5 separate regions of the Homo sapiens genome follow, and regions 1, 3, 4 and 5 are each linked to region 2. The links come from fine-mapping of genetic effects on gene expression. A gene starts in region 2. Each other region holds a variant in brackets. All regions are shown on one strand. Distances are from middle to middle. Region 1 overlaps ST6GAL1 (ST6 beta-galactoside alpha-2,6-sialyltransferase 1). Region 2 holds the start of ST6GAL1 (ST6 beta-galactoside alpha-2,6-sialyltransferase 1). Region 3 has its middle 39 kb from the start of RPL39L. Region 4 overlaps ST6GAL1 (ST6 beta-galactoside alpha-2,6-sialyltransferase 1). Region 5 overlaps ST6GAL1 (ST6 beta-galactoside alpha-2,6-sialyltransferase 1).

Region 1 (6,075 bases), 76 kb before region 2:
AGCATCTTGGCCAGGGTGGTCTTGAACTCCTGACCTCATGATCCACCCGCCTCAGCCTACCAAAGTGCTGGGATTATAGCCGTGAGTCACCATGCCCAGCCACAATGGGTCACGATTGAACAATTAAAAATAAATTCATAAACATTTCTTACAGTTTTTACTTTTAAAACATTTATTCACTTACTTATTTTTAGAGACCGGGTCTCACTCTGTCACCCAGGCTGGAGGACAGTGGCACAGTGATAGCTCACTGCAGCCTTGAGCTCCTGGGCTCAGGCCATCCTCCCTCCTCAGCCTCCCAAGTAGCTAGGACTACAGGCACACACCACCACACTCAGATAAAGTTTTAAAATAAAAAATTGCACTCATAGAAAACTATAGAAAGTAGCAATAATGAACCACCATGTATCCGTTACCTAGCATCAACAATTATCAATTCAGGGTCAATAATGTTTTATTCATAGCCACCTATCCCTAAGTATTTTAAGTAAATCCCAGACATATCATTCCATCCATAAACATGTAATTATGTACCTTTAAAAAAATACGACCATAGTACCATTAAAAATAATTTAAAAACTTAAAAGTTTTTTTAATTATTGACTTTTTAACAAAACAGGAAAATGCTCACAATATAGATTGAATAAATAAAGAATATTATAAAACTATATACTACATAATCTTAGTTGAAAGAAAAAGGGAGGAAGAAAGAGGGGAGGTAAGGAAGCAAAGAAGAAAAGAAGGGAGGGAGGGTGGGCAATTTCACAAATAGAATCAAAGCATTAAAAATGTCCATCTTCTTTTAATTCAGTAATTCTATCTCCAAAAAAGAATTATCAGAAATGCTGCCAAAGACTGTAGTTTGACTTCAGTCCATGCATAACCTGAAACAACCTCAAATCCCAACAAAAAGGAATATTTAAATATGTTATGAAATGTCCACATGAAAGGAAGAGACAGAGAGAGAAAAACCAAAAAAGAAAAAGAGAAACGCATATTCACAGAAAAAAAAGACTTAAAGGAAATAAATCTAAAATATCGCCAGTAGTTTGTAGTTACCCATGTCATGAGATTTATGTTTGTGTGTATTTTTATCAAGGGGAATGTATTAGATATTTATTATTTCTCCTGCTCTTCTTTTGTTCCTCAAGTTTTAACTTTTCCTCTAGTACAGCTTCCCTTCAGGTTGAAAAACTTCCATTAGTATTTCTTTAAGAGGAGAGCTCCTGGAAATGAAGCCTCTTGGTTTTCCATCACCTGAAAATATCTCTATTTTGCTTTCACTCCCAAAGAATATTTTTTCTGGATATAAAATTCTGGGTGGATAGTTTTTTTGTTCTTCCAGCATTCTAAAGACGGGGTTTCACTGTCTTCGTCTTTGGCCACCATGGTTTTGGATGAGAAATGGACAGTCATTCGAATAGGTTTCTTCCTTCCTTCCTTCCTTCCTTTCCTTTTCTCTTTTTTCTTTCTTTCTCTCTTTCTTGAGTCCTTCCTTTCTTCTCTTTTCTTCCTTCCCTTTTCTTACGTATAATGTGTCATATTTTAATGCTCTTAATGTTTTTTAATCCTTGGTTTTTAGAAGTTTTCTTATGAGGTGGCTGAGGAGTTGTTATTAAATGTATCCTGTTTGAAATTACTGAGATTCTTCAATTTGTGAAGATACGTTTTTCTTTAAATTTGAAACTATTTCAGCCACTCTTTCTCCAAATATTTTTTTCTGCACCAGTATTTTTCTTTTTACCTTCTGAGATGGAATGCCAATACCAAGAAGTTTCAGCCTTTTGACATTGTCCCACAGTACCATGAAAGGCTTTTCATTTTTCTCCAATTTTTTTTTGTTTCATAATGTATATTTCATTGTGTATACTTTCTATTGATCTACCTTCAGGTTCACTGACTCTTTTCTCTGTTATATTTATTCCGCTACTGGGCCCATATCATCTTTTCAGGTCTAAAATTTCTATCTGATTATTCTGCAGTTTCTAGTTCTCTGCTGAGAACTTCTATCTTTCCTAATTTCAAGAACTTTCTAATTTCAAGAGTGGAGAATGGTCATACCTACTTTATTTGTCTAATAATTTCACGATCTAAGTCATTTCAGTGTTACTGCCTATTGAACTGTCTTTTCCTTTGAGTACTGTTTAGATTTTCCAGGTTGTTTTGATATTGAGTAAATTTGAATTGTATCCTGGATTTTTTAATATGTTGTGAGACTCTGAATCCTGTTAAAAATCATCTGAAAAATGTTTGTTTGTTTGTTTGTTTTACCAGGAAATTAATCCACTTAGGTTCAGACTGAAAGTACTGTCTCACTTTTTATGAGTGTTAGCTCCAGTGTCAGATCAGTTTTCAAAGCTTTTGGTATGCCATTTGAGTCAATCTGTCACATGCTCCATTCAAGAGTTTGTCTGGGACTTGGGTGGTTGTTAATATCATAGTTAGATTCTCAAAACCTCTTCTGTGCCTCCTGGGTCTGTTCCATGCATGCACACCTTGTAGTGTGCCCAGGACTTTTGTCAGTCCAATTTGTGGATCCCTTTTTCCACCTCTCTCCTCTCAGGGATTTCCTCACACTCTCTGGCTTCCAGTGGCTTTTCCCCCCTGCTTCCTCTAGTTAGAAAGATGGAGTTATCTCGGACTCTTAGCTTTCCACACTGTTCTGCAAATCCATGTTCATCGTGAGTCATTGTTCAAGTTTTGAACCCAGTACTCTGCCTGCCTGCTATTACTTTTCAGAGTTTTCATGTGGTTTTTTGCATCCTATTCAGCTTTCTGTTGTAAACATTGGTAGAGATTGTGGTTGGATTATTTCATCTTGGCTGTACTAGCAACTCATCCTTCTCAGCAATTTACTTCTCATCCATGTTTCAAAACTCCACTAAAATACCACTTCCTTCTAAGAAGCCATCCTTTTTCTCCCAGCTAGAAAACTTTCCTCTTCCTCTCATTAGGGAAGAAAGGGATTTGGCAATCTTGAGAATAAAACTTAAAGCCAAATTTTTTTCACGATTCTCTTTGTTCAAACATCTGAGTCTAAGGAGATGACTGGAATGAAATCAAACTTAATCAAGAAGCACAATGGTGGTTAAAAGTGGACTTTGGGGCCAGATTGCCAAAATTCCAGCTCTGCTAATTGCTAGATGTGTGACCTTAGACAAATCACTTACTTCTTTTTACCTCAGTTTCCTCATCTATGAAATTAATAATAATAATACTTACCACATAGAATTATTATGAAGATTAAGTGAGTTAATAGTTGTAAAGCACCTAGAAAAATGCCACACTGTAGGTGATTACTATGAATCTCTCACAGGTTGCCGTAACTCTACAGATGAGAGAACCCTATGCAGGGAAAAGGGGAAAGGAGCACACAGGGAATTGGCTCTATTTTCACCTCTTCCTATGTCCTGAAAGTGACCATAATTTTTGTTTTGATAAATACTTGAAAAAGCCCAATTTGTGTTCTGTGTAGATCTGAGAAGTCATGTGGCAGAGTGGGGACATGATTACATGAGGTAGGTTAGATCTGGCTTCCAGACTGGCTCTCCTTTGGGTCTAGGTTTTATGTTCTAAATCAGACCACAGAGGTAGACTGGTCTATCTACAAGGAGCCGACGGAATGATCTCTGTAAGA[G/T]GCAAATGGAACTGGGCCATTTCTCAGTTTATCCTCCAATGGTTCCCTGAAACACAGATAAAATATAAATTCCTTAGGCTGTCCCAGAAGACTAGTGACTTTTGCTGCTGCTGCTATCTGTAACCTCATTTCCTGCCACTCCCCAACAGCCCTCACATTGCAGCCATACTGAACTCAGGTTGGCTCACCCCACTTGCACCACTTCCCTCATCCTCAAGGTCAGATATCCCCCCACCATCTTGTCAAAGATGCCTATGTCTCCTCTTCCATGCAAGTTACTGAAGGGCTTTCCCAGACTCCCCAGGACCCTGTTGGTCGGTCCTTCCCTTCTGTGTGCTCCCACAGCCCTCTGACCATATTCTAGTAGCACTTTCTGGTTGACAGTAATCAATTATTTTATAGGTCCCTCTCTCCCTCGATACACCAGTGTTTTTCAAAATACGTATTATTTTACATCAGTGGATCTCAAAAGCAATTTGGGCACAAGGACCAGGTTTTTAAAAAGAGAATAAACAAGATTTTAAAATATCAGAATCCACTGCATGTAATAAGAGAAAGTAGAGCTTCATGAAACTTTTGTCTCAAATAGATCATTAGAAAGATGGATGACAGATGCCGGGCGCCGTGGCTCATGCCTGTAATCCCAGCACTTTGGGAGGCCGAGGCGGGCAGATCACGAGGTCAGGAGATCGAGACCATCCTGGCTAACACGGTGAAACCCCATCTCTACTAAAAAATACAAAAGTTAGCCGGGCATGGTGGCGGGCACCTGTAGTCCCAGCTACCGGGGAGGCTGAGGCAAGAGAATGGCATGAACCCGGGAGGTGGAGCTTGCACTGAGCCGAGATCGCGCCACTGCACTCCAGCCTGGGCGAAACAGCGAAGACTCCGTCTCAAAAAAAAAAAAAAAAAAAAAAAGAAAAAGAAAAAGAAACATGGATGACAGATAATGAACCCCACAGACCCATGACCAGTTTCAGTATTATCAACTCATGGTCAGTCCTGTTTTGTGTATACCCCACTTACGCCTACATCCCTAGATTTTGAAACAAATCCTGAACTCATCATTTCATTAATAAATGTTTCAATATATAAAAACCTTAAAAAAGAAAGACCTAAAAAAAAAACTGCAATACCATAAAATGTACTTCTTATTGATGGTGGCAGTCAAAAACGTTTGTAAGACTTAGAAGCTCCTAGGGAGAGATGCCACCTCATTTATCTCTGCATTTTCATGCCCTGGCACTCAATAAGTGCTGAGTAATGAAAGGAAGAAGAGGAGAAAGAGAAAGGATAGAAGATAGAAAGGTTGTAAAAGGGAGAAGAAAGAAAGATGATTTCTTCTCTTTTAGCTTTGAATCATCTTGAAGTATTTTCAATCAATTTCTCTAAAGGAAAGAAACACCAATTTAGCTTCCTCATCAATAATTAATTCCTGAATAAGTAAGGTTTCTGTATTTGTTGTTTTCTCTCTGGGATGTCACATATGACTGTACAAGTTGTTCACTGCATAATGGCATCTGGTACTGGCTGAAAGGGCATCCTTTCTTAATAGCACGAAAGTGCCGTATAAGCTAACAGGACATCATTCTCGCTCCCGACTCTAGTGTATTACATATTGCTACCTTGGTCCACTCTGCTGTTTTCTTCCCTTCCTCCTACACTGCCTATGGAGGCTACAAGCAGGAGATTCTTCCTGGGCACCTGGAGGTATCTTCTCAGTAATGCTTATAAAAGGCCATCTTTCTATAGAAAAACTTTGGTATCAGAAGCAGGACCTCTCTCTTAGGAAAAGTCCTGGGCTCTGGGGCTGGCTCTGCCACTTGCTAGTCATAGGACTTTCAGATAGTCTCCCTGTGTTAGTCTGTTCTTCCATTGCTATAAATACCTGAGATTGGGTAATTTACAGAGAAAGGAGATTTAATTGGCTCACAGCTCTGCAGGCTGCACAAGCATGGTGCCAGCATCTGCTCACTTGCCGGGGAGGCCTCAGGGAGCTTTTAGTTATGGTGGAAGGTGAAGCAGAAGCAGGCACATCACATGGCGAAAGCAAAAGCAAGAGGCAGTGGTGGGGAAGGTGCTACACACTTTGAAACAACCAGATCTCATGAGAACTCACTGTTGTGAGGACAGCTCCAAGCCATGAAAGATCCACACCCATGACCCAAACACCTCCCAGCAGGCCCCACCTCCAGCACTGGGGGTTACATTTCAACATGAGATTTGGTGGGGACATATATTCAAACCACATCAATCCCTGAGGCCACATTTCCTTGTATGAAAGTAGAAATAATAGCTCTTCTGTCTCTTTCTAAGAACCCTTACGAGGACCAAAGGAAAAAAAAATGTTTTGGCAATAATAAAGTAGCATAGGGATGTAAGGAATATTTTATTAATGATGTATGGTTATGTCCAGAATGGTAGTTCCTAAACTTCAC
Region 2 (6,075 bases):
CATTAGGCAAGCAATTTCTCTTCTCTAGGCCTCACTTTTCCCATCTGGAAAGTAAAAGGGTCCAGTCACATGATTTCTGAAGTTCCTTACAGGGTCAGCGTCCTGGTGAGAAAACTATACTGCAGTGCCAAGAGGAATTGATGTAGGATTTTTCTTCTTGGTCCTCGGGCCAGCAATGCCCCACCTGTGCTCGCTCGGCCATGCAGGTGTGTCCCAGCTCACTGTATTATAGCTTGTACCCGCGTTCGGTGGTTCCGAGCTCGTGCACCACACCAAAGGATAATGAGGATACACTGGACATTGAAGGGAGAGGAAGGCAGATAAGAATTTTATTGAGTGTTGAAAACAGCTTTCAGCAGAGAGGGGACACCGGGTTGGTCCCCTACCTGAAGACGGAAAAGTTCCCCAATGTGGCTGGGTCAGGGGCCTTTTATGGACTCAGAATAGGGAGTGCATGCTGACCGGTTTGTGAGTATGCAAAAAAGATGAAAGCAAAGACACCACTCAAAGGTGGGCACGGCAGCGTAGAAAACCAATTAGGAAAAAGTGGGTATATGTAAAACAGGCGAAATGTAGGAATCAATTAGGGGAAAGCACGCCAAACAAGTTCTCACTCTGGTCTGAGGATTTAACTCGTAGCTTGGCTTTCAGGCTTTAAACTGTCTTTGGCCTGGAGGTGGGGGTTTCACCGGGTACCTGACCCTATCTGCCTAGGCATCCAGCTGCCTCCTGTTGCTACCAGAATCACATTGAAAGTGAAACACGCTGGAAACTCTAAGGAAAAGAAACAAGTGTAACTAGGAGATAACAGGCACAGTGCAAAACAACATGTTAACTTTGGGGAAATCCGGCTTCTCAGTGTTTTTTTGGTTTTCCTACTTCTCTGCCAAATACAAAAATAAGCAGCTACTTCCATGGGACTCTCGTTAAAAAAAAAGTAACTTTAATAAGATCAGTGAAAACAATGCTTTGTTCTCCCACAAGTGGCTCAGGAGTAGCTTGCTAAGACACACTTTCTTCCCCGTGGGGCTGATGTCAACAGCCCATGCTTTTGCCCAAACAAAGGCCTCCTGGCACAAGGATGAGAGGCAAAACATCTGAGTCTCCGTAGCTGGCCTTATTCCAATTTGAGGGGAAGGGGCAGCCAGGAGAGAAAAATAACTAAGCTTTTGAAAGGCTTGAAGGAGAGTAAGGAATTACTAAATCTATTTTTTCTCAACAGAATAAAGAATTCTTGAAAGGGATAATGGAAGGGTGCAGCTTTCTATTTGAATTACTCTTTGTTTCACCCTATTCTGCCTAAGGCCACTGCCTTTTAGGCCAATCACAGAATCCCGGTTTTGCCTTTAGTTGCCCGCTGAGCGATGCAGTGGGAGTTGGGAGACCCACACTCAAGTGTTCTCTCTGTGGCCCGTTTCACCCGGTTTAAACTTGGACAAGTGGCTGAACTCTCCGGCCTCAGCTTCCTGCCTGTAAAATGAGAAGGCTCCCTAGATGCTCTCTAGACCTTTTCAATAACAGCGGAATAGGATTGGAGGCTCTCCAGTTCCCCCCCCGGGGACAGGTTAATCTTCAGCCACACTAGCCAAGGTGAGGCAGCAGCCCGCCCGCTCAGCAGGCACACACTGGGGCGGCGGCGCCTCCATTCCTGCTCACACTGCACGCCCACAACCTGCACCAACACCATCGCCTCAGAGACCAATTCACCGCGAAACCATCTCCCCGCTGCAGATCGTGTCCGATTAACATCTGCAAAGCTGAGCTGAGCATATGTAAGCAAAGAAAAAGCAAAACAAACAAGAGTTCTCTTTTTCCGGACCTCGGAATTTCTTTCAAATAAACTCAGAACTGAAAATTGTACGTCCCCAGCTAGAATACGAGGTCTCGGCTGGCCTTGCTTGCGAAAATGCATTAACAAGCCAAAAGGGGCTAGTGACATCTGGGGTGTCTGGGCACACGGACACGGGCCTCAGAGGCAAAGAGCAAGACCGCACTGGGCGACTCGTACATTCTTCCCGCAGGCTGAGGAGGCGACCAAAATATCCCCACAGAGGCAATCGCCGGAGTGCGGGGACAATAGTGCACCCAGCACTCTCTTTTTTTGAGGGGCACCCTTAGACCCTTAACCCAACCCACATCTCTAAGAGACCTCCAGGAGGTGAAGGTGAGGGGTGGTCCACTTCACCCAAAAGAATGCGCCACGGCCGGGGACCGACTCAGCCTGGAGTAACCTTTTTGTAGCTGCTTTCTTGTTTTGGTTTCCCTTTTTAAGTCTGGCAGTTTAGTCTGATGCCCAAGCGGTACCTTTTAAATGTCTCTCTCGCCCTCTTCCAGCAAGTGGCGCCTCTAGAGCCACTCCCTCCCCCGAGGCTGAGACAATGGCCCGGCACCGCAGGGCGGCCCCTAAGGGTATGCAGTGCGTCCAGCTCTCCGGGCAGGGCGCACGTGCGTTTGTTATGGTGCCTGTGCCCCCTCCGCTGCCGCGGGCCTCAATTTGTCGATCCGTAAACCCAGACTCTGCAAGGCGCAATGCCCCCACGCCACCCCACCCCATACTGACGGTGCCGTGGAGAAATCCGTGTTCCCCGGGGCTGTGCGCACGTGGGTTTGTTGTGGATCCGCAGGCTCGCGGAGCCAGAGAGAAGCCAGGGTGGCCCTTTGGCCCTGACAAAAATGCACACACCCCCAACCAAAAGGCGGCCAGCCCCGGAGCCAAGGCAGCTGAGGCGGAGCTGGAGAGAGATTCCCTGCGCCCTACGCGCGCCGCGGGCCCCGCGCCTCCGCTATCCTCCCGCGCCCCTTTGCATCACACTCCTCCCGGGATAGCCCGGGCCGCGCCGCCGCCCACCGCACCCCCTACTCACTCGCTGCACTCTCGGCCGCGGAGGCTGCGGTTGCTCAGCACGCTCGGTGGCGGCCGCCCGCTCCGCGCCCACGCCGGTCGGTATCGGCTCCCTTTGTTAACGCCGGGCAGTGCCCCAGGCGTCTTCCCCAGCCCGGCCCTGCCCAGGACTCCCCTCCCCCAGGTGACTCCAGAAAACGCGCTCGGCAAGGGCAGGATCGCCCGGGAGCTGGGGACCCCACTAGGGAGTCTCGAAAGAGGGGTCCGCTGGGGAAGAACGGGGGACAGAAGACGCACAGTGGAAGGGACTGGAGAAGGAAGGAAGAAGAGCGCGGCGGAGGGGCGGGAAGGAAGCGAGTCGCCTCCGTATGCAAATAGAGTTGCGAAGACTGGGTCGGTCTCCGCCCCCACTCCACCTCTCGCCACCGGCCACACCGCGCCCCAAACCGGCCTGGAGGTCGCTAGCGAGCGGGCTTGGGGTTAAAGACTCTTGATGAAGGCACTGGGTGATGCTAGAATCCTGCCTGCTCTCAAGGAGGGTGGATCGAGGGCCGAGTGGGAGGGGCCACGCGGCTGCGCAAGGACCCCTAAATGCCTCTTCCCCGCTTGGCCGCGAGGGGTCAATCCAGCAGTGTCCGGCTTTTGGTCCTAACATGCGGGTGCTGTACACCCGGTCTCTGCTACCGGCTGACTGCGAGACCCTGAGGAAGTCGCTTAACCTCTCCGAAGACTCGTGTTGCTCTTATCTAGAATAGGAAAGAACAAAATCTTTCACTGCGTTTGGCATTAACCTCCTAACATTGAGGCATGACTCCTACTGGGCGCTCTCAAATGGCAAATACAGAAGGAGAGGAGCGTCCTCGAACCCCTGCACCCAGAGGCTTCCACCCCAAGCTGCAGGCTGAAAGACTGAAGCCTCAGCCTGGATGGTGAAGGGAGCGAGGTTCTTTCTTTTCACCCGGACGACGGTGGGGCTGCTGGGGAAGGAAAGAGGATTAACCAAGCTGCGTACTGACCATCCCCGATAGCCCCAAGGCGATTTCCCTAAGAAAGAAAAACTGCCCAACAGGAGGGCGGAAGGGGCCTTTAAGGCCTCCAGTCCAGCCTCCCATAGCCCAAAGAGAGGATGTGACTACCAGAGGCAATAGTCATATCCCAGTTGTCTACTGAGTGCACACTAGGCACCAGGCTGTGTGCTGGGTGGGAAAGGGGAAAGGAAGGAGATACTGGAAGGTTTGGGGGTCCTCTGGGAACACAAAGTCCAGTGCACACTTAAAGTGCCTGAAGCCCAGGCCCAGAGTTCTGTCTCCAAATGAGGTGCCTACCCCACATCACCAACCTTGGAAAGGGAAGTTACATCCGCACCCTGTCCCCAGCACCCTTCTTCCAAACACTGCTTCCTCCCTGTCCTGATCCTGGCTCCCTTCTGCTGATACTGTCATTCCCTTCCCTGCTGCCCCTGAGGCATTTTTGCTCAGTACAAAGAGCTCCAATTGAAGGGAGTGCCAGCCAGAGTGAATTCAAATCTTTATGACCAACTCGCTGTGCCTTCTTGGGTGAGTTCCACATCCTGTGAGCCTCCCTTTCCTCTTCTGCAAAATGGAGATATTAAGGAAAGCGTTGTTTTCAGGATCCTGTGAAATGACCTACGTGAAACACGTAGCTTAGTGTTTGGCATATAGAAGGTGCTCCTGACAGTAAAATGTATGTATGCGTGAATGAATAGAAGCAGCCAAGTTCAGAAGACTATTTCTGGAAGGATGCTACATTGAAGATTTTAGGCCCTATTCGAAAAAGGGAAAAAAAAAAAGGAGGCTATTAAAAGATTCTGTGCAGTAGCATGACATGCATCTTTGTATTTTACAAGGATTCCTCTGGCACCACACTGGAAAATAGATGGCAGAAGCAGAGAATGCAAGAGACTAGATTGGAAGCTGACATCAATGGAGATATAATAAGAGCCTGAACTGTGTCAGTGACTGTAACAAGACAGAAGAAAAGGACATCTAAATAATAGCTACCATTTGGAGATCTGACATGGTTTGGCTCTGTGTCCCCACCCAAAAATCTCATCTTGAATTGTAATCCACATGTGTCAGGGGAGGGACCTCCTGGGAGGTGATTGGATCGTGGGGGGCGGTTTCCCCCATGATGTTTTTGTGATAGGGAGCTCTCACGGGATCTGGTTGTTTGATAAGTGTCTGGCATTTCCCCTGCATTCTCTCTCTCACCTGCCGCCATGTAAGATGTGCCCTGCTTCCCCTTCACCTTCCACCATGATTATAAGTTTCCTGAGGCCTCCCCAGCCATATGGAACTGTGAGTCAATTAAACCTCTTTTGTTTATAAATTACCCAGTCTCAGGTAATTTATAATTTTCTCAGTAGTGTGACAATGGACTAATACAGGATTCAAAGCACCTTATTTATTACATTGTCTCTCCTTTTCATCAGATAAGTAATGGTCTTAGTCCTATTTTATGGATTAGGAAACTGAAGTCATCTAGGAAGTGAAGAGAGAATTTGACACATTCTTCCACTTTCTTTGAAAGCTTTAATCATCTCCTTCATCATCACCCATATGTCAACATTACTTAAGAACTAAGAACAGCCTGGTGCGGTGGTTCACGCCTGTAATCCCAGCACTTTGGGAGGCCTAGGCGGGCGGATCATGAGGTCAGGAGACCAAGACCATCTTGGCTAGCACAGTGGAACCTTGTCTCTACTAAAAACACAAAACAAATTAACCGGGGCTGGGCGTGGTGGCTCACGCCTGTAATCCCAGCACCTTGGGAGGCCGAGGCGGGCGGATCACAGGTCAGGAGATCAAGACCATCCTGGCTAACATGGTGAAACTCCATCTCTACTAAAAATACAAAAACAAAATTAGGCGGGCACGCGATGACGGGCGCCTGTAGTCCCAGCCACTCAGGAGGCTGAGGCCGGAGAATGGTGTGAACCCAGGAGGCGGAGCTTACAGTGAGCCGAGATCACGCCACTGCACTCCACAAAAGCAGAAGGCGCTCTTTCAGAGGTTGTCCAGTCCCCACTCCGCAGTTCTCTTTTGCAGAGAACTGGAAAACCAAATTAAGGAGAAAACAAGGGAAAAGGTTATCTCAACACTGAGATAAGCACAGATGATATGACACGTGCAAAAATTTCCTGGGCGTCTGAGACAGATGAGTGGGCAAGCAAGGGTGCTCCTGGTAAAATTCCAGGATGGGGGCCATTGTGG
Region 3 (6,075 bases), 170 kb before region 2:
CTCATGGGGTCTTCTCATATTTTCACTGTAGTCCTCTCTTCCTAGCCCACAAGACAGGGCCATAGAACAATCAGTGTTCCTATTCCCTTCTATTGTGGCCCCTTGAACTTAGGCCTCTGGTTCACCTAAGCTCTGCCCCCTCCCCTATGGACGATCAGGGAGCTCCTTACCAGTGGGGCCTGGGGCATGGAAGGCTGGAGGCAGTGAGGGATACAAGACTACATATTTGGTACAGTGTACACTGCTCAGGTGGCGGGTGGGGCACGGGGAGGCCCGTAGCGTCCCTATTTCCAGTCTCTGAGAGAGAGCCACATGTTTGAATGAACCCAGATTCTGCTGAAGTAAAACTCCTGTAACATATTTATTTCAAGTTTTAATGAAGAGATATTTCAATTTCTGGCCAAGATGGAGTAAAAGAGACTGGATTTACCCTCTTACATGAAACAAATAAAGAACATGAAAAAAATAACAATATTTAAAACATTGGAAATCAGGTAATAACGAATAGTGGATTCCTGAGGAACAGGAAGCAAACAAGTGGTATCCAAAGGGAACAAATTATTGCCAGGAAACTTAATTGCATCCCAGAACAAAGCTCAAGATATTGATAAAAATACAAAAATATCTAGCACCCCAAAAGAAAATACTTGCAATGTCTGGCATCCAATAAAAGATGACCAGTCATGCAAAGAAGCAGGAAAACGTTATCCATAGTTAGGAGTAAAATCAGCTAGAACTGACCCATAGATGATATACTTGATATAATTACTAGACAAAGACATAAAAATAGTTGTTAAAACTGTATTTTACATATTCAAGAAGCCAAAGGAAAGATCAAAACTATAATATCTCGGATAAAAACACTCTGGATGGGATTAATGGCAGACTTGATATTGCAGAGGAAAATATAAGTGAACTTGAAGACATGGCACTAGACACTACCCAAAATAAAATAGAAGAAAGAATAATTTAAACAATTTAGAAAGGACCAATGAGCTATGGAACAGCCTTAAGCAACCTAACATTCATGTTATTTGGTTCTCCAAAGGAGGGTGGGCATGGGGGTCCATACCTATAATCCCAGCACATTGGGAGGCTGAGGCAGGGGGATCACTTGAGGCCAGAGATTTGAGACCAGCCTGAGCAATAAAATAAAAATTTTCTTTGACGAGACAGGGTCTTCTATGTTGAGGGAGCCAGGCATGGTAGCATGCACCTGTGGTCCCAGCTACTCAGGAGGCTGAGGTTGGAGGATTGCTTGAGCCCAGCAGACTGAAGCTGCAGTGAGCTATGATCACACCACTGCACTCCAGCCTGGGTAACAGGAGAAGACTCTGTCTCAGAAAAAAAAAAAAAACAGATTTTTCAAATCTGATTAAAACTGTAAACATAGTTCCAAACAGCTCAAATAACCCTAAGCAGAAAAAAAAAAAACCCACAAAGAAAACTACAAGAAGGCATATCATACTCCCATTACTTAAAACTACTGATAAAGATTAAAAAATCTTAAAAGCAGTAAAAAAAAGACATTGAGAATGACATCAGCAAGAAGACAGAATAGGAATTTTCCAGCTCCATTTCTCCTCCCCCACCACACATACATACACAAATCCACTGGCAACTACTCACAGACAAAAACACCCTTGTGAATATTCCAGAACTTGAGAGTGAAGCTAAGACACCCCCTTATACCGCAGAACTGAGAACAGCCGCATGCCAAGAATAAGAGGAGTAGTTTCACTTTGGCCACATTGCTCCTCCCCCAAGCTGGCAACGTGCCACACATAGAGGATTCTCTGGGACCCATGGTTGTTACACAGGGAGGAGAGAGTTGGAGGTGAACATTCAGCTTTGCCACCATTCTGGGACCCTTCAGAGGAAGTGTTCTCTTGTCTCATCACACAGGAAGCACTGGGAGTATCAGCAGAGCTAGACATCTGAGATCACTTGGAGATAAAGAACAGATGTGGGGCTCACATCAACTAGTGCAGGAATCTTGGCAGCTGTCCTGCATTCAGGCCAGTGGAGGTGCACCACCAGAGAAGCTAGCCAACAGCGCTGCTCTGGACTAAGCACAGTCAACTGGTCTCTCAAATTCAGGTACCTGGCCAGCTTCCACAGCCAGTCCTGTTACCCTCCTTGAAATTTACCCAGGCTGGGAGATAGGGGCAGGGCAGTGATTATCTGTAAAGGGAGTATCTGGCCCCACCCAGCTCCATCAGCCAAAGAGCTAAAACACCAAGCCTCAGTGCTCTGCTTAAGGTTATCCTGGGATGAGAAGCAAGCTCAAGTTCACGCATATCTGTGAAGCATCGCCTCTGGCCCCGTCCACCCAGAGTAGTTAAGTAGTGATCCGAGAAGCCTTGCTCAGCCTCAGAGCCCAGCATGCAGTCCTGCCAAACTACAGATTCAAAACTGCAGTACTGGCCAACCAGAGAAGACAGCCTACAACACGGCCTGTCAAGGAGCAATCAAACAGCTCAGCCTTACTGCAGAGTCCAGCCACTGGTCTCATCAGACTGCGGAGCACAGCCAGCATTTCAGGTTTGTTTGTTTTTTTTAAAGGAGAACATTTTATTAATACTAGCTATTTCCAATAAATTCTCTGAATAATTGTAATGTTGTCTTTCTCTGTACTTCATGCCCTTAATATTACACTCATTTCTTTTATATATATGGTAAATTTAATTTCTCCTTTCTTAAAATTATTACTTTATTTCAGTAGCTTTTGGGGGTACAAGTGGTTTTTGGTTACATGGATGAATTCCACAGTGGTGAAGTCTGAGATTTTAGTGCACCTGTCACCCGAGCTGTGTACACAGTATCAAATATGTAGTCTTTTATCCCTCACTGCCCCGAACCTTCCCTGCCCCATGTCTCCAAAGTCCATTATATCACACTGTATATCTTTGTATCCTCATAGCTTAGCTACCACTTGTAAGTGAGAACATATGGTATTTGATTTTCCATTCCTGAGTAATTTCACTTAGAATAATGGCCTCTGGCCCCATCCAAGTTGCTTCAAAAGATATTATTTCATTCCTTTTTATGGCTGGGTAGTATTCCATATACCACATTTTCTTTATCTACTCATTGGTTGATGGGCACTTAGGCTGGTTCCATATCTTCACAATTGTGAATCGTGCTGCTATAAATATGTGTGTGTGTGTGTCCGTTTCATATAATGGCTTCTTTTCCTTTGTGTAGACACCCAGTAGTGGGATTGCTGGATTGAATGGTGAATCTGCTTTCAGTTTTTTTAAGGGCTCGCCATAGACGTTGTGCTAATTTACATTCCCACCAGCAGTGTAAAAGTGTTCCCTTTTCATCATATCCTCGTGAACATCC[G/A]TTTTTTTTTTATTTATTTTTTATTTTTTAATTATGGCCATTCTTGCCGGCGTAAGGTTGTATCTCATTGTGGTTTTAATTTGCATTTCCCTGATGATTAATGATGATGAGCATTTTTCATATGTTTGTATACTTCTTTTGAGAATTATCTACTCCTGCCCTTTTCCCACTTTTTGAAGGGATTATTTGGTCTTTTACTTGTGGATTTGTTTGAATTCCTTGTAGATTCTGGATACTAGTTCTTCATTGAATGTGTAGTTTGAAATATTTTCTCCCACTCTGTGGGTTGTCTGTTTGCTGATTATTTATTTTGCTGTGCAAAAGCTTTTTAGTTTAATCAGTTCCCATTTATTTATTTTTGTTTTTGTTGCATTTGCTTTTGGGGTCTGAGTCATGAATCCTTTGTGTATGCCAATGTCCAGAAGAGTTTGTCTAATGTTATTTTCTAGAATTGTTATGGTTTCAGGTCTTAGATTTAGGCCTTTGATCCATCTTGAGTTGGTTTTTGTATAAGGTGAGAGATGCAGATGGTTTCATTCTTCCACAGGTGGCTTGCCAGTTTTCCTAGCACCATTTATTGAATAGGATTTCCTTTCCCAAATTTGTGTTTTTGTATGCTTTGTTTAAGATCAGCTGGCTATAAATATGTGGTTTATTTCTGGGTTATCTGTCCTGTTCTATTGGTCTACCTGCCTATTTTTATACTAGTACCATGCTGTTTTGGTAAGTATAGCCTTGTAGTATAATTTCAAGTTGGAATATGATGCCTCCAGATTTTTTTTTTCTTAGTATTGCTTTGGCTATGTGGGCTCTTTTTTGGTTCCATGTGAATTTTAGTATTGCTTTTTTCTAGTTCTGTGAAAAGTGATTATGGCATTTTGATGGGAATTCCATTGAATCTGTAGTTTGCTTTGGGCAGTGTGGTCATTTTCACATTATTAATTCTTTCCATCCATAAACTTGAGGCATGTTCTCATTTGTTCGTGCCATCTGTGATTTCTTTCAGCAGGGTTTTGTAGTTTTCCTTGTAGAGATCTTTCACCTCCTTGGTTAACTATATTTCTAGGTATTTTACTTTTTTTTTGCAGCTTTGTAAAAGGGATTGAGTTCTTGATTTGATTCTCAGTTTGGTCGTTGTTGGTGTATAGCAGTGGTACTGATTTGTGTACAATGATTTTGTAACCTGAGGCTTTACTGCATTTGTTGATCAGATCTAGGAGGCTTTTGGATGAGTCATTAGGGTTTTGTATGTATACCATCATATCATCAGCAAACAGTGATAGTTTAACTTCCTCTTTTCCAAATTGGATGACTTTATTTCTTTCTCTTGCCTGATTGCTCTGGCTAGGACTTCCAGTACTATGTTGAACAGAAGTGGTTAAAGTGGGCATCCCTGTCTTGCTCCAGTACTCAGGGGGAATGCTTTCAACTTTCTCCCATTCAGTATGATGTTGGCTGTGGCTTTGTCATAGACGGTTTTTATTATTTTGAGGTAAGTCTCTTCTATGCCTAGTGTGTAGAGGGTTTTTATCATAAAATGATGCTGGATTTTATCAAATGCTTTTTCTGCATCTATTGAGATGATCATATAGCATTTGCTTTTAATTCTGTTTATGTGATTTATCACATTTATTGATTTGTGTATGTTAAACCATCCCTGCATCCTTGGGATGAAACTCACTTGATCGTGATATACTATCTGTCTGATGTGCTGTTGGATTCAGTTGGCTAGTATTTTGTTGAGGATTTGTGCATCTTTGTTCATCAGGGATATTTGTCTGTAGTTTTCTTTATTATGTCCTTTTCTAGTCTGGGTATTAGGGCGATACTGGCTTGATAGAATGATTTGGGGAGGATTCCCTCTTTCCCTATCTTTTGGAATAGTTTCAGTAGGATTGGTACCAATTCTTTGAATGTCTGGTAGAATTCAGCTGTGAAACTCTGTGGTCCTGGACCTTTTTTGTGTCAGCAATTTTTTTTATTACGGATTCAGTCCACTGCTTGTTATTGGTCTGTTCAGGATTTCTATTTCCTCCTGATTTAATCTAGGAAGGTTATATGTTTCCAGGAATTTATCCATTTCCTCTAGATTTTCTAGTTTGTGCACATAAAGCTGTTCATAGTTGTCTTGAATGATCTTTTGTATTTCTGTGGTATTCTGTGTAATGTCTCCAGTTTCATTTCTATTTGAGCTTACTTGGATCTTCTCTCTTCTTTTATTGGTTAATCACACTAACAGTCTACCAACTTTGTTTATCTTTTCAAAGAACCAGCTTTTTGTTTGATTTGTCTTTTGTATTTTTTATTGTTGTTGTTGTTGTTTCAATTTTGTTTAGTTCCACTTTGATCTTTATTTCTTTTCTTCTCCTGGCTTTGGGTTTAGTTTGATCCTGTTTCTCTTGTTCCCTGAGGTGTAAAATTTGGTTGTCAATTTGTGTTCTTTCAGACTTTTTGATGTAGGCGTTTAATGCTATGAACTTTCCTCTTAGCACTGCTTTTGCTGTATCCCAGAGGTTTTGATAACTTGTGTCGGTTATTATCATTCATTTCAAATAATTTTTAAATTTTCATCTTGATTTCATTATTAACACCAAAATCATTCAAGAGCAGATGATTTAATTTCCATGTATTTTATAGTTTTGAAGGTTCCTTTTGGAGTTGATTTCCAGTTTTATTCTACTGTGGTCTGAGAAGATACTTGACATGATTTCGATTTTCTTATATTTA
Region 4 (6,075 bases), 91 kb before region 2:
TGGCTAACATGGTGAAACCCCCGTCTCTACTAAAAATACAAAAAATTAGCCAGGCGTGGAGGCATGCACCTGTAGTCCCAGCTACTCAGGAGGCTGAGGCAGGAGAATCACTTGAACCTGGAGGCGGAGATTGCAGTGAGCAGAGATCATGCCACTGTACTCCATCCTGGGTGACACAGCGAGACTTTGTCTCAAAAAACAAACAAACAAGCAAAACATGTATATATGTATATATATAAAACATATATATGTATATATATACCCAAAAGGATCTAAGTCCTGGTAGTCTAAGGGAGTTGGAGGTGAGGAAATGAATAGGGAAGGTTGAGTTCTTCTACTTTGTGGTGGCCCCGGGGCCTGTAAGAAAACTTACACCAATACTCATGCGATAGGTTCATTCTTTTTTTTTTTTTTAATTATTATTATACTTTAAGTTTTAGGGTACATGTGCACAACGTGCAGGTTTGTTACATATGTATACATGTGCCATGTTGGTGTGCTGCACCCATTAACTCATCATTTAGCATTAGGTATATCTCCTAATGCTATCCCTCCCCGTTCCCCCCACCCCACAACAGTCCCGGTGTGTGATGTTCCCCTTCCTGTGTCCATGTGTTCTCACTGTTCAATTCCCACCTATGAGTGAGAACATGTGGTGTTTGGCTTTTTGTCCTTGCCATAGTTTGCTGAGAATGATAGTTTCCAGCTTCATCCATGTCCCTACAAAGGACGTGAACTCATCATTTTTCATGGCTGCATAGTATTCCATGGTGTATATGTGCACATTTTCCTAATCCAGTCTATCATTGTTGGACATTTGGGTTGGTTCCAAGCTATAGGTTCATTCTTTCAGCAAATGCTGATTGCCTACTGTGAACCAGACTGCAGACACAGCAGTAGAGAAGCCAGCCAGAAATCCCTAACCCCTCCAGCACTCACCTTATAGTGAGGATAAATAAAGAGTCAAACAACATAAATCCGTGGTGCTTTGCAAGGAGATAACTGATATGCAGACAATTAGAGTAGGGAAGAGAAATAGGGACAGCTTGGAGTGGGTGAGGTGGAGATTTAAATCAGATGATCAGAGAAAGCCTCACTGAGAAGAAGACATTTGAGCAAGGGTTGGAAGGAGGTGTAAACCAAAAATAAAATCCTAAGCCCCCCACTAACCAACTGAATGGACTCCTTTTTGGCCATGGGCACCCCAGAGAAACCTGAAAAACTGAATTCCCAGCCATGACAGAAAGGAGGTTACACCCTCATCATACCCCTCCCTTTTGGGGTTTAGGTACAAGTGACCAGCATTAAGGTAAAATAGAGATTATAAGACTGACCAAACAGACCCTTTATGACAATAAGATACCAAACTATACACAATACCTAAGGCCATAAAAGGCAAAGATTAAGTCATACCCTAGAAACAATACAGTCTCATTAAATGGGTTTTTTAATTAACCCAGTAAAATGTGGCTTACTCTCCAACCTGACTCTGGTATAGTATCACATGACAGACAGCAGACTCTGAAGGAAATTAAAATATTTTGCCCCAAAATACATTTCTTTGACATATTTGGAAAAGGCTGCCAGACAGCCTTTGGACTGCAAAGCCATCTTTGGTGGGGGAAACGTGCATCTCCAGAGAATCGATATTAATGTCTCTTCCCTTGCTAGGCCTTTCCCAGATCTAGGAGAGATTCTAACTGAGAGTCAGACACCCAAAGGTCTGAGAAGAGACAATCACTATCTATTCACCCAGAGGGCTGCTATCTATGAGGCTCCAAGGACCTAGGCCCCCACAACCTCCTTATCTTACTCAGGCATTCCTTCCTACTGACTTCAAGTCACTAGACAATAACTTGACTCTCTCAGCTACTGTTAGCTAAAGAATCCCTAAAACGCACTTAAGACTTGTAAGGCCCCTCAGCCCTCCCCTAACCCTCTACCCCCCAAGTCCCTGTGTAGGGAAAACTCTCTGTAGCCATCTTTCCTCTGCTCTCACACCACAACAATCAACACAGAAGATGACTTATGTGACCATATGTGTGGGGGTCCCACCCCAACACCAAGCAGCGACACCAGCTTGGTGTCCTCTAATTCAGTTCCAACACTATCTACCTGGAAATAGTGTCAGATCCTACAGATTGAGGGCTTAGTGTCCAAGACATCCCCCCTCCACCAGTCACAAGTCCAGGCCTCCAGAACTTCTTTCTGACCAACCAGCTTCCATTGGGGTTCCCCTCTCCGTGGGTTCAATTAATTTGCTGGAGCGGCTCACAGAACTCAGGGAAACACCCTACTTACATTTACTGGTTTATCATCAAGGATGCTGCAGAGGATACAGATGAAGAGATGTGTAGAGCAAGGTATGGGAGAAGGGATGCAGAGCTTCCACGCCCTCCCTGGTTGTGCCGCCCTACAGGAACCTCCTCCTATTAAGCTATCAGAAAGTTCACCCAACCCTGTCCTCTTGGGTTTTTATAGAAGCTTCCTTGACGTCAGCATTTCTTCCCCCAGGGCATAGGGTAGGAACCTCTCATGGGAAGGTTTTTTTTTTTTTTTTTTTTTGAGACAGAGTCTCGCTCTGTCGCCCAGGTTGGAGTGCAGTAGCATGATCTTGATTCACTGCAACCTCTGCCTCCCGGGTTCAAGCAATTCTTCCTGCCTCAGCCTCCCGAGTAGCTGGGATTACAGGCGCCCACCATCACACCCGGCTAATTTTTCTATTTTTAGTAGAGACGGGGTTTCACCATGTTGGTCAGGCTGGTCTCGAACTCCTGACTTCAGGTGATCCACCCACCTCGGCCTCCCAAAGTGCTGGGATTACAGGCATGAACCACTATGCCTGGCCTCATGGGAGGGTTGTAAGGCCCACAGTCAGGCCAGAAAACATAAAAACCTTGCCTTGGGGCAGGTGAAAGGACGGCAGGAGAGAGACTGTTTCTTAGGGCCTGTCCCTGAAGTCTAAAAAGCCCAGCATTCTAGCAAGACTGTAGCAAGGGCTATGGGGCTATGCGCCAGGAAACATGCATGGAAACCAACACATAGTCCAGGCATGATGGCTCACGCCTGTATTCCCAGCACTTTGGGAGGCCAAGGCAGGTGGATCACGAGGTCAGGAGATCGAGACCATCCTGGCCAACATGGTGAAATCCCATCTCTACTAAAAATACAAAAATTAGCCGGGCGTGGTGGCATGCTCCTGTAATCCCAGCTACTCAGGAGGCTGAGGCAGGAGAATCACTTGAACCCAGGAGGCAGAGGCTCAGTGGGCAGAGATCACGCCATTGCACTCCAGCCTGGGTGACAGAGCGAGACTCCATCTCAAAAAAAAACAAAAAAAAAAACCACCAATACATATATCCTAACACCGCACCCTCCCCCACTTTGAGATGTCTCACATTTTTTGGACAGAACTACCAGTTACCTTCCATGTACTGATTTCCAGATATCCTTGCCTGTAATGCCTGTCTCCCTAAAATGTATAAAACCAGACTATGGCCCAACTGCCTCAGGGCCACTCACTCAAGGCTTCTTGGGTTTGTGTTTTCTCTAAGCTACAGTAACTCATATTGCCTCAGGATAAACTTCTTGAAAATATTTTACAGAATTTGGTTTTTCTGTTAACAGAGATGAAGGAGGCTACCATGCAGATTTCTGAGAAAAGAGGGTTGCAAGTAGAGGGAACAGCAAAATACCTACACAGGGGCAGCCAGATAATGTGGCGCCTTACACAGGTGTAGGGGTTTTGGCTTTCATCTGATTAAGACTTTGCCGATGTATGTTTCAAAGGCATCACCGGATGCTGCCTTAAGAATCAACTGTAATGAACAGCAGGTCTTATAGATGTTACCAAATTTAATTCTTACCACCACCCTGTGGGGTGGGGTATTAACAATCCTCTTTTTTAAATAAAGAAATTGAAACTCAGAGAGTTTAAGTCATTTGCTCAAGATGTCACTGTAAATGGTGAAACCA[C/G]GGTGTGTTTTGTTTTTTGTTTGTTTGTTTGTTTTTGAGACAGAGTCTCGCTCTGTTACCAGGCTGGAGTGAAGCAGTGCAATCTCGGCTCACTGCAACCTCCACCTCCCAGGTTCAAGCAATTCTCTGCCTCAGCCTCCCGAGTAGCTGGGATTACAGGCACCCGCCACCACGCCCGGCTAATTTTTGTATTTTTAGTAGAGACGTGGTTTCACCATCTTGGCCAGGCTGGTCTTGAATTCCTGACCTCGTGATCCACCCGCCTCAGCCTGTCAAAGTGCTGGGATTACAGGCATAAGCCACCATGCCCGGCTGACCAGATTATTCTAACCAACAAACTGGTAGTGCTCTTCATCCTATGTCCCTCTACTCAGGCCCTTCCAAGGGCTACTGCGAGCCTCTCTGCTTTATCACACCAACTACAGTTGCTAATCACTGTATTGACCTTCTGGTGACACCTATTTACTCTGCCCTGATCTTCATCTCCTTAATCTTTAGTGCACAAACCTCACCCTCATCTGGACCTTAGAACCCAAACTTTCTGTTCTTAGACTTAGAGTGCTTGACACCCTGTTGCCCCCAGAGGGTGGCATAGTGCCTCCGAGAGGGGCTCCATGTGTCCTGGCTGCCAGAAACCCTCTCCCATGAAGGACTCCCATTTCTCTAAGAGCTTGGATTCTTAATGTGTGCCACCTGAGCTGCCACTTAATGCTGACCCTTCTTTCTCTTTCCTCATATCAGGGATAGCTGGCTGCCCCACAAGAAGTTTGCTCCTTCTGCCATATAGTTATTGCTGTAAATTACTGTCCAGAGAGGGATTGCATTTTACACACACACAAACACACACAGCATATAGATGGGATCATTTTACTAGTTATTGGCAAAGAAATGTGAGCAAAAATAACATACATCACTTCTGGGCCAAGATGGTTAAGACGTGAGTTTATTTGCTCTAGCAGCTAGCATTACCCTATAGAGCTACTCAATAGAGACTTCCTGAATATTTATTTCTATGGTTTAAAACCATCAACAGAATATTCAGCTATAGATTTTTCATATCTCCTCATCCCAACATTTCACAATCCCAGTGAAACAACAGAAGCACACCCTAATTTAATCAAAGCCAAGAGGTCCTAAATTCTTTCACATCAAATCATATCTCTTGTATTTTGTTTCCCCCGACACGATTCCAAGATTTTGAAAGATGTTGTCGACTAACTTTAATTTAAAATTTGAGTTATTTGTTATCAAATGAACAAAGATACTGTTGCCAATCAGAGGTTCTGAATGGCATGAGATTGCCACGACTACCACAGTCAGTTGATAAAAGTTTAGCATAAAACAAAGAAACTTGATTTTCTTGGCTGCGCAGGTTTGCCGTGGTGAACGTGCTTCTCCCATCTGGCTTTTCGAGATACTCAAGTGTCTGGTGGATCTCTGGAGGCCCTGGACAAGGGACTCTGGTTTGTGGAGCTTACTCCAATAATCGTAACTTTGTGATTACAGCCATAGACACAATTCTTGCTTAGCATGCCCCTGTGATGGCTAATACGGAGTGTCAACTTGATTGGATTGAAGGATGCAAAGTATTGATCCTGGGCGTGTCTGTGAGGGTGTTGCCAAAGGAGATTAACATTTGAGTCAGTGGGCTGGGGAAGGCAGACCCACCCTTAATCTGGGTGGGCACCATCTAATCTGCTGCCATTGTAGCCAGAATAAAAAGCAGGCAGAAGAATGTGAATAGACTAGACTTCCTTAGCCTTCCAGCCTACATCTTTCTCCTGTGCTGGATGCTTCCTGCCCTCGAACATCAGACTCCAAGTTCTTCAGCTGTGGGACTCGGACTGGCTTTCCTGCTCCTCAACCTGCAGATGGACTATGTGGGACCTCACATAGTTCCATGACCGTGTGAGTCAATACTCCTTAATAAACTCCCCTTTATAAATACATCTATCCTATTAGTTTTGTCCCTCTAGAGAACCCTGGCTAATTCACCTCCCAAAAATCAGGTTCTACTGGTTGGCTAGACACAGAAGGGTGCTTAGAAAAACCACCCCCAACAGCCCCTAACTAGGCAAAATTAAGGCACTCTATGTTTCT
Region 5 (6,075 bases), 47 kb before region 2:
CTAGTATCATCCAGGGTGCCCGCTGCATCCACTGCTCCCCAGGCTCCACCCCAGCTGGGCTGAATCTGAATCTGAGACAGGGCCTGGGAATTGCTCTTTTAACAAGAGTCTCAGGTGATTCTTAGGATCAGGCAAATTGTAGACCAATGGCACAATGGTTAAGGTGTGACATATCAGGATCCATGATCTGATTCCATCATCGTTTGTTTTATGGCTTCAGGCAACTTACTTAACCTCTCTGAACCTCAGTTACGTATCTGGAATTTCAGAATGATGACAGCATCTGCCTGTAGGGTATACGGAGGAATAAATGAGATAATGGTCATCAACCACTTAGCATAATGCCTGGCACATAGTAAGCTCTCAACAGTATCACCAACATCACTGACCTGATTGGTGCTATAAAAGCTGCATCCCTATTATTTTTGCTCAGTGCTACACAATTAGCAATTAAAGTGCCCGAGACCAGGATTTAAACTCATACCTGACCATCTCCGAAGCATTAAGCACCTACACAGCAACTTCTCGGAAGCCTTGGCAGCAGGGGAAGGAGAAATTAAACAGGCAGGGGGCCCGGTGGCATAGAACAACCCACATATTCAGGTACTGGCTCCAAATTCATGTTTGAATTCAGCTCACGTTGCATTCTTAGGAGCAGCTATTACGCAGATGCTACAGCCAGAAGGATGCCCCCGAGCACTATGTATTAAGGAAGGAAAGTTTGTCTTGGACTTCCTCCTGTCTCTGTTTCGACTCCTCTTCTACCCCTACCCTCCTTTGGGGACCATCCAAAATCCCCACTTTTTCTCCAGGTCTGCCCAAGGAGTTCCTCTCTTGGGAAGCAGATCAGGCACAGAGTTTGAGTCTGGCCTGGAGAACAGGGAAGACCTAAGCTTCACTTCCCAACTGTAAGGCCTCCCACTGTTACTTCACCCCTGGGACCTTCTCTCAATAGGTCCTAGGCTCATTTGCAGTAATGCTCCAGGCAGAGTGCATAGCTCACTGGTCAACTAATCAATAACGCTAGGCCTCAGGGTATCACCTCTCCTTTCTCTGAATTCCCCCAACCTAACCTAACATTTCAGTTAAAGTGGGGCCACCTGTGACTCACACTTTATATACAGTTTGTTTTACAATGAGCCCTCATTCATTTGTTCACACAAATATGCCCCAAATACAGATGATACAGAAATAAATAGGGCCCAGCTCCTGCTGCTGAGGTCTTAGAGAAAAGACCATAAACTAGTGGGTGGAAAATCATGTAAAGCATTAAAAACTAAGGGCCGAGGAGGTGGTGCCAACTCTACTAGAGGAAGTCAGAAGTCAGAAAAGGTAAAGTTCATCCTGGGTTTTGAAGTTTGAACAGGAGTTCACCAAGCAGAGCAAGGCATGCCCAACAGAGAATAGCAGTGCAAAGGCTCAGTCATGAAAGTGGCCCATTGTGTTCAGGGATGGGGAGAAGCTGTGAGGTGGGACAGGGTATAAGGGCTGCAGTGATGAGAAATGGTCTTCGACAGGACATCTGCTCCAGACAGAGGTATTTCTAGTCCCAATTTATCCTGCAAGCAACTGGGACTGGTGGAGGTTTTCTAAGCAAGCAAATAACATTATTAGATTGTTTTCTCTAAACTCCGTGGTGTGCTCCCAGCACTAAAAAGGAGCTTTGATGGAGCACGAAGAGGTGAAGAGGGGCCATTTCCGTGAATAAAGGAAAGGGTGCCAGAGACCATCTTTTCTGGCTCCTGGTCTGGCCTGCAGCCCCACCATCCACCCAGCTAACCCCTGGCTCAGCAGATAGTGAACTCTGGTCAAGTCCCTCCTGGAACACCAGGCTCCAGAAGCTGTTAACAGAGTAACGTGGAGAGAGAGGAGTGGGAACCAACTGCACAGATAAACTGAGGAGGAGTCAGAGAAATATGATGTGTCTAGTGGCTCACAGCATCCTGAAAGGGGCAGGAGCTTCCAGCTAGATAGACTATGTTCAAATTCCACCTCTACCTTTACTACCTGGCATAACCTTGGGTAATTCCCTTAACCTCTCTGAGACTGTTTTTTCTTTTTTCTTTTATTTTTATTTTGACACGGAGTCTCGCTCTGTCACCCAGGCTGGAGTGCAGTGGCATGATCTCAGCTCACTGCAACCTCTGCCTCCTGGGTTCAAGCGATTCTCTAGCCTCAGCCTCCCAAGTAGCTGGGATTACAGGTGTGCGCCACCACGCCTGGCTAATTTTTGTATTTTTAGTAAAGATGGGGTTTCACCATGGCCAGGCTGGTCTCGAACTCCTGACCTCAGGTGATCCTCCCACCTTGGCCTCCCAAAGTGCTGGGATTACAGGCATGAGCCACCACGCCCGGCCGAGACTGTTTTCTTATCTATTAAATGGCAATAACAAGTCCCATTCACTTCAAAGGCTTGTACTGAAAATTAAAACTATTTCAAGTGATGAGGATAGTGACCACTACAAGGAATAATGGCTCTCTAAATATTATTAAACTGATTATTAATATCTTCATTTTTATTTTATGTGTCTTTTATATGATGTGATAAAATCCCTCAGGCTAAAAGATCTTCAAATACAGCAGGCCCCTGGAGGCACGGGATGGAATTAGCCCTCCTGAGGCGCTCAGAGGACGGCTGTGTCTCCTGCGTGAGACTGATCAGTTCCTTCCAAGTTGCCTTCCGCCCTCCTTGGCTGCCTGCAGTTTCTGTAGGATCATATTTCCCACCTGACCCAGTGGGCCCAGGAGAGCTGTGGGCCTTGTAGCTCTGAGCTTTTCAGAGGTCTCACATGACAACCTGGCAGGGTGCAGCTGTTCCCGGCAAGGGCATTAATAATACAGGCCTTCTTCCGCAAACTCTGGC[C/A]AACAGTCTAAAATGACAAGTGAAAACACTGAGTCCAAATTCTCCCTGGGGCTTAGGGCAGAGGAAGCCAAAATAGCTCGCCTTTATCAGGGCTAAATCGTGGAACTAAATCAGGGTTCTGCTAGCGGTGGTGGCTAAGGGAAACCGCTGGTGATAAAAGCAAAGAAATGGGGGAGAAGCCGTGGGGGAGGGAGCCACAGTCACACTCCTTACAGAATAAACTATCTCGCCTAGGGGCAGTTTCAGCAGAAGGCTTCAGAGACCCCCGGAAGCAGACAGAAAGAAGTCCACATGCCTTGCTGGCTGAGGAGCAAATCGGGTCATGAATTTCATCTCAGCAATAGCCAATAAACACAGCAGCTGCTATACCCAGCCCTGAGACATCTAGCACAGGAGACTTTATAAAGAACAAGCCGATCTCCTCTGGCAAGCAAGCCACAAATGGAGAAGGTCTTGGCAGGATTTTTGTGTCCTTTATTCATATGGTATCAGCACCTAAAACAGTGCCTGGCATTAAAGCACTAGGTAAATATGAGTGACTGAAGAAATACATGCGTGGGGAGAGAATATAAACCAGCAGCACCAGTTAGTAACTATACAAAGGTAAGCAAGCCATTCAGTCTCTAGGAGCCTCTATTTCTTCATCAGGAAAATAGGGTAATGACACCTACTTTGAAAGGGTCTTATAAGAATTAAGGCCGGGCACAGTGGCTCATGCCTGTAATCTCAGCACTTTGGGAAGCCAAACTAGGTGGATCACTTGAGGTCAGGAGTTTGAGGCCAGCCTGGCTAACATGGTGAAACCCTGTCTCTACCAAAAATGTAAAAAATAGCCGGGTGTGGGGGCACATGCCTGTAGTTCCAGCTACTTGGGAGGCTGAAGCAGGAGAAGCGCTTGAACCCGGGAGATGGAGGTTGCAGTGAGCCGAGATAGTGCCACTGCATTCCAGCCTAGGCAACAGAGCAAGACGCTATCTCAAATAAAAAAAAAAAGAATGAAATAAAATGATGTATGTAAACACCTCTAAAACAATGCTTGGTAGAAGTAGGCACTCAGTAAATGGACTTCAATCTTCAGCTACAAATTTGACCTCAATCCTCAGCTATAAATCAGACCTCAACTATCAACTCTCTGTTTCCAATTCTTACGGAGGAGGGGAAGGTTGGGGGAGGTGAATAAAAGGAGAGCGTAAACCAACTGAAGATGAGAAATCAAAGGAAAGCAAAGGAAAGACCCACAAGGTCACACCTCACTGGATGACCTTGGACAAGTCAGGTACTTTGCTGGGTCTCAGAGTTCTCTGTGGTAGGATGCAGGGAGGTGAGTTTGATCTGTGGTCTTGAAACTGTGTGCAGGAACTCTAGCGAGCCCGTGGAGACCCTGAGGGGCTGTCTTGGGGTGGGGAAGAAGGAGACCAGTGGGTCCCGAGCAGTTGCAGGCAGTTTCCTATGGGAGGCTGGGAGGCTGTCCTCAGAAGAAACAGTCCCACACTTGGTCCAGTTTGTTGTAAACTAATGCTTTCTCCGAGGTCCCCAGTTCCTCCCAGGGCCAGGATTGGGATGAGGTAAGGGAGGTCTCACCCTAGTCCCAATCGTGAGTCCCCCAGACCTCCTTCAGTGCCAGCCTCACTCACTTCTGTGGCGTTTGGCACAGCCAGCCACCCTCTCTGGAAGTCTCTCTCCACTGCCTGCCCTGGCACTGCCTTTCATGGGTACAGTGTTCTGTTTCTCTCCATCTCTTTCGCTGGATCCTCTCCTTCCTCCTGGGCAAGAGAAGTAGAACAAGAGGGAAGAAGTGGATGGGAGAGTACAAAGAGGCCATGGAAGAACACACTGTGGGGAAGTTCAGTTGTGGACAGGCAGAGGGAGACTGGTTGAACAGCAAAAGGCAGATGGCCAGGCAGGTACGAACCTCAGGGACAGAGAAGAATCACTCCCCATCACCTGGCAGAACTTTCTCTCCCCTGCACTTCTTCTTTCCTTGCCTCAATGCCCCTGTCCAAGTCAAGTCCACATCATCTAATACTAGGACCCTCACAACAGTCTCCCAACCCATCCCTTGCTTATCTTCTCACAAAAGATTAATCTCCTGAAGTCCAGCTCTGAATCATTAAGCTCCTCCTCAGACACTGAAATTGCATCTTCCATGTTTACTCCATTAAGTGCAAATGCCTCTCAGTCTAGTATACAAGGCCATACTCCCACTCACTCCCCAGCCTCCAAGCAACACCCACCGTGCACACAGGCACCCGCTTCCCTGGATTCACCCTGGCCACCGGCCCTGACGTTGCCTGCACTCCTTTCCTCCCTCAGCGCACCCTCGCCCCAATTTCACCTGTCAAATCTTTGCACTGTAAACAGCAGACCCACGCTCCTCTTTTCCAAGATCCTGCATCCAGGCCTGCCAAAGCCCAGAGCTATTTGTAGATGTTGGCGAGGACACGTCTCTCTGTCTGCTCAGTCAATAATTCACTGCAATACCAGGTATTGCAAAAGAAGGCCTTTGCCTTGCCTTCCAATAAGAGTTACAGGGTAGAAAGCAGAAACCTGCCCTGCAGCTGCCATGAACCCCACCTGAGCAGGCAAGTTAGGCTACACTTGACAGTGGAAGCTCATCAGCCACAGTGAAGCAGCCCCCACCACTTGTTTATTTATTTATTTCCCTTTGCACCCAACCCTGCTGTGGGCGCCCCCCCCCCAACCAGGCTCTCAGTAAATACTAATTGAATTAATTAATTAATTAATGAGATCTTCCTGCTGGGAGCACAGAACTAATCCCATAAAAACAAAAATAATTCTCCTGTCTTTTGCATCTAAAGCTGACCCCACTAATGACGGAAATGTTCTATAACTGGATTGTGGTGACAACTGCACAGCTCAGTAAGTTTACTAAAAAAAATCACTGAATTGTATACTTAACATGGGTTGATTTCATGGAATATAAACTGTACCTCAATAAAGTTGTCTTTAAATATCTGTATGATGATCAAAACCACCATGGTCCATGGTGGCTCACTGTTCGGCTGAGTGATAAAGTGAGTTATGAGCTAACCCAAAAATAAACAACAGAAAAGATGCTCCGGGTCTGTAAGGTGTGGGATCCAAGCTCAGTCGGTTCCTGCAGTATCGGCAGCACCTGTGGATGGTTGGATATGGGTAATCTCAAGGAACGGTCTAGGCTGTTGGAGGCGGGGTGAGGGCCCTGGGGTGGC

Evidence for each region. PIP is the estimated chance that this variant, and not a neighbour inherited with it, causes the effect.
Region 1: its variant is the best candidate, but not a certain one, in a credible set for the expression of ST6GAL1 in blood mononuclear cells (TOPMed, PIP 0.60).
Region 3: its variant is the best candidate, but not a certain one, in a credible set for the expression of ST6GAL1 in whole blood (INTERVAL, PIP 0.81).
Region 4: its variant is the best candidate, but not a certain one, in a credible set for the expression of ST6GAL1 in whole blood (TOPMed, PIP 0.88).
Region 5: its variant is the best candidate, but not a certain one, in a credible set for the expression of ST6GAL1 in nasal epithelium (TOPMed, PIP 0.84).

What each region holds. Positions count from the first base shown.
Region 1 is chr3:187,003,750-187,009,824 of GRCh38, reverse strand. All of the region lies in intron 2 of ST6GAL1 (ST6 beta-galactoside alpha-2,6-sialyltransferase 1), which reads right to left. Among named protein-coding and RNA genes, the nearest start is that of ST6GAL1, 76 kb to the right of the region's middle. The variant G/T (reference allele first, on the strand shown) is at 3,638.
Region 2 is chr3:186,927,624-186,933,698 of GRCh38, reverse strand. ST6GAL1 (ST6 beta-galactoside alpha-2,6-sialyltransferase 1) reads right to left here and starts at 3,173. Exons shown (of 8, transcript NM_173216.2): 1 at 2,865-3,173. RefSeq lists enhancers at 727-786, 807-856, 2,950-3,558 and silencers at 2,753-2,942, 3,183-3,262.
Region 3 is chr3:187,097,629-187,103,703 of GRCh38, reverse strand. No RefSeq gene overlaps it. Among named protein-coding and RNA genes, the nearest start is that of RPL39L, 39 kb to the left of the region's middle. RefSeq lists an enhancer at 1,734-1,783. The variant G/A (reference allele first, on the strand shown) is at 3,349.
Region 4 is chr3:187,018,231-187,024,305 of GRCh38, reverse strand. The region is part of intron 2 of ST6GAL1 (ST6 beta-galactoside alpha-2,6-sialyltransferase 1); the gene reads right to left. Among named protein-coding and RNA genes, the nearest start is that of ST6GAL1, 91 kb to the right of the region's middle. RefSeq lists a silencer at 1-88, an enhancer at 2,055-2,324, a cis regulatory region at 2,327-2,420 and a promoter at 2,327-2,904. The variant C/G (reference allele first, on the strand shown) is at 3,976.
Region 5 is chr3:186,974,214-186,980,288 of GRCh38, reverse strand. All of the region lies in intron 2 of ST6GAL1 (ST6 beta-galactoside alpha-2,6-sialyltransferase 1), which reads right to left. Among named protein-coding and RNA genes, the nearest start is that of ST6GAL1, 47 kb to the right of the region's middle. RefSeq lists an enhancer at 3,909-4,790. The variant C/A (reference allele first, on the strand shown) is at 2,864.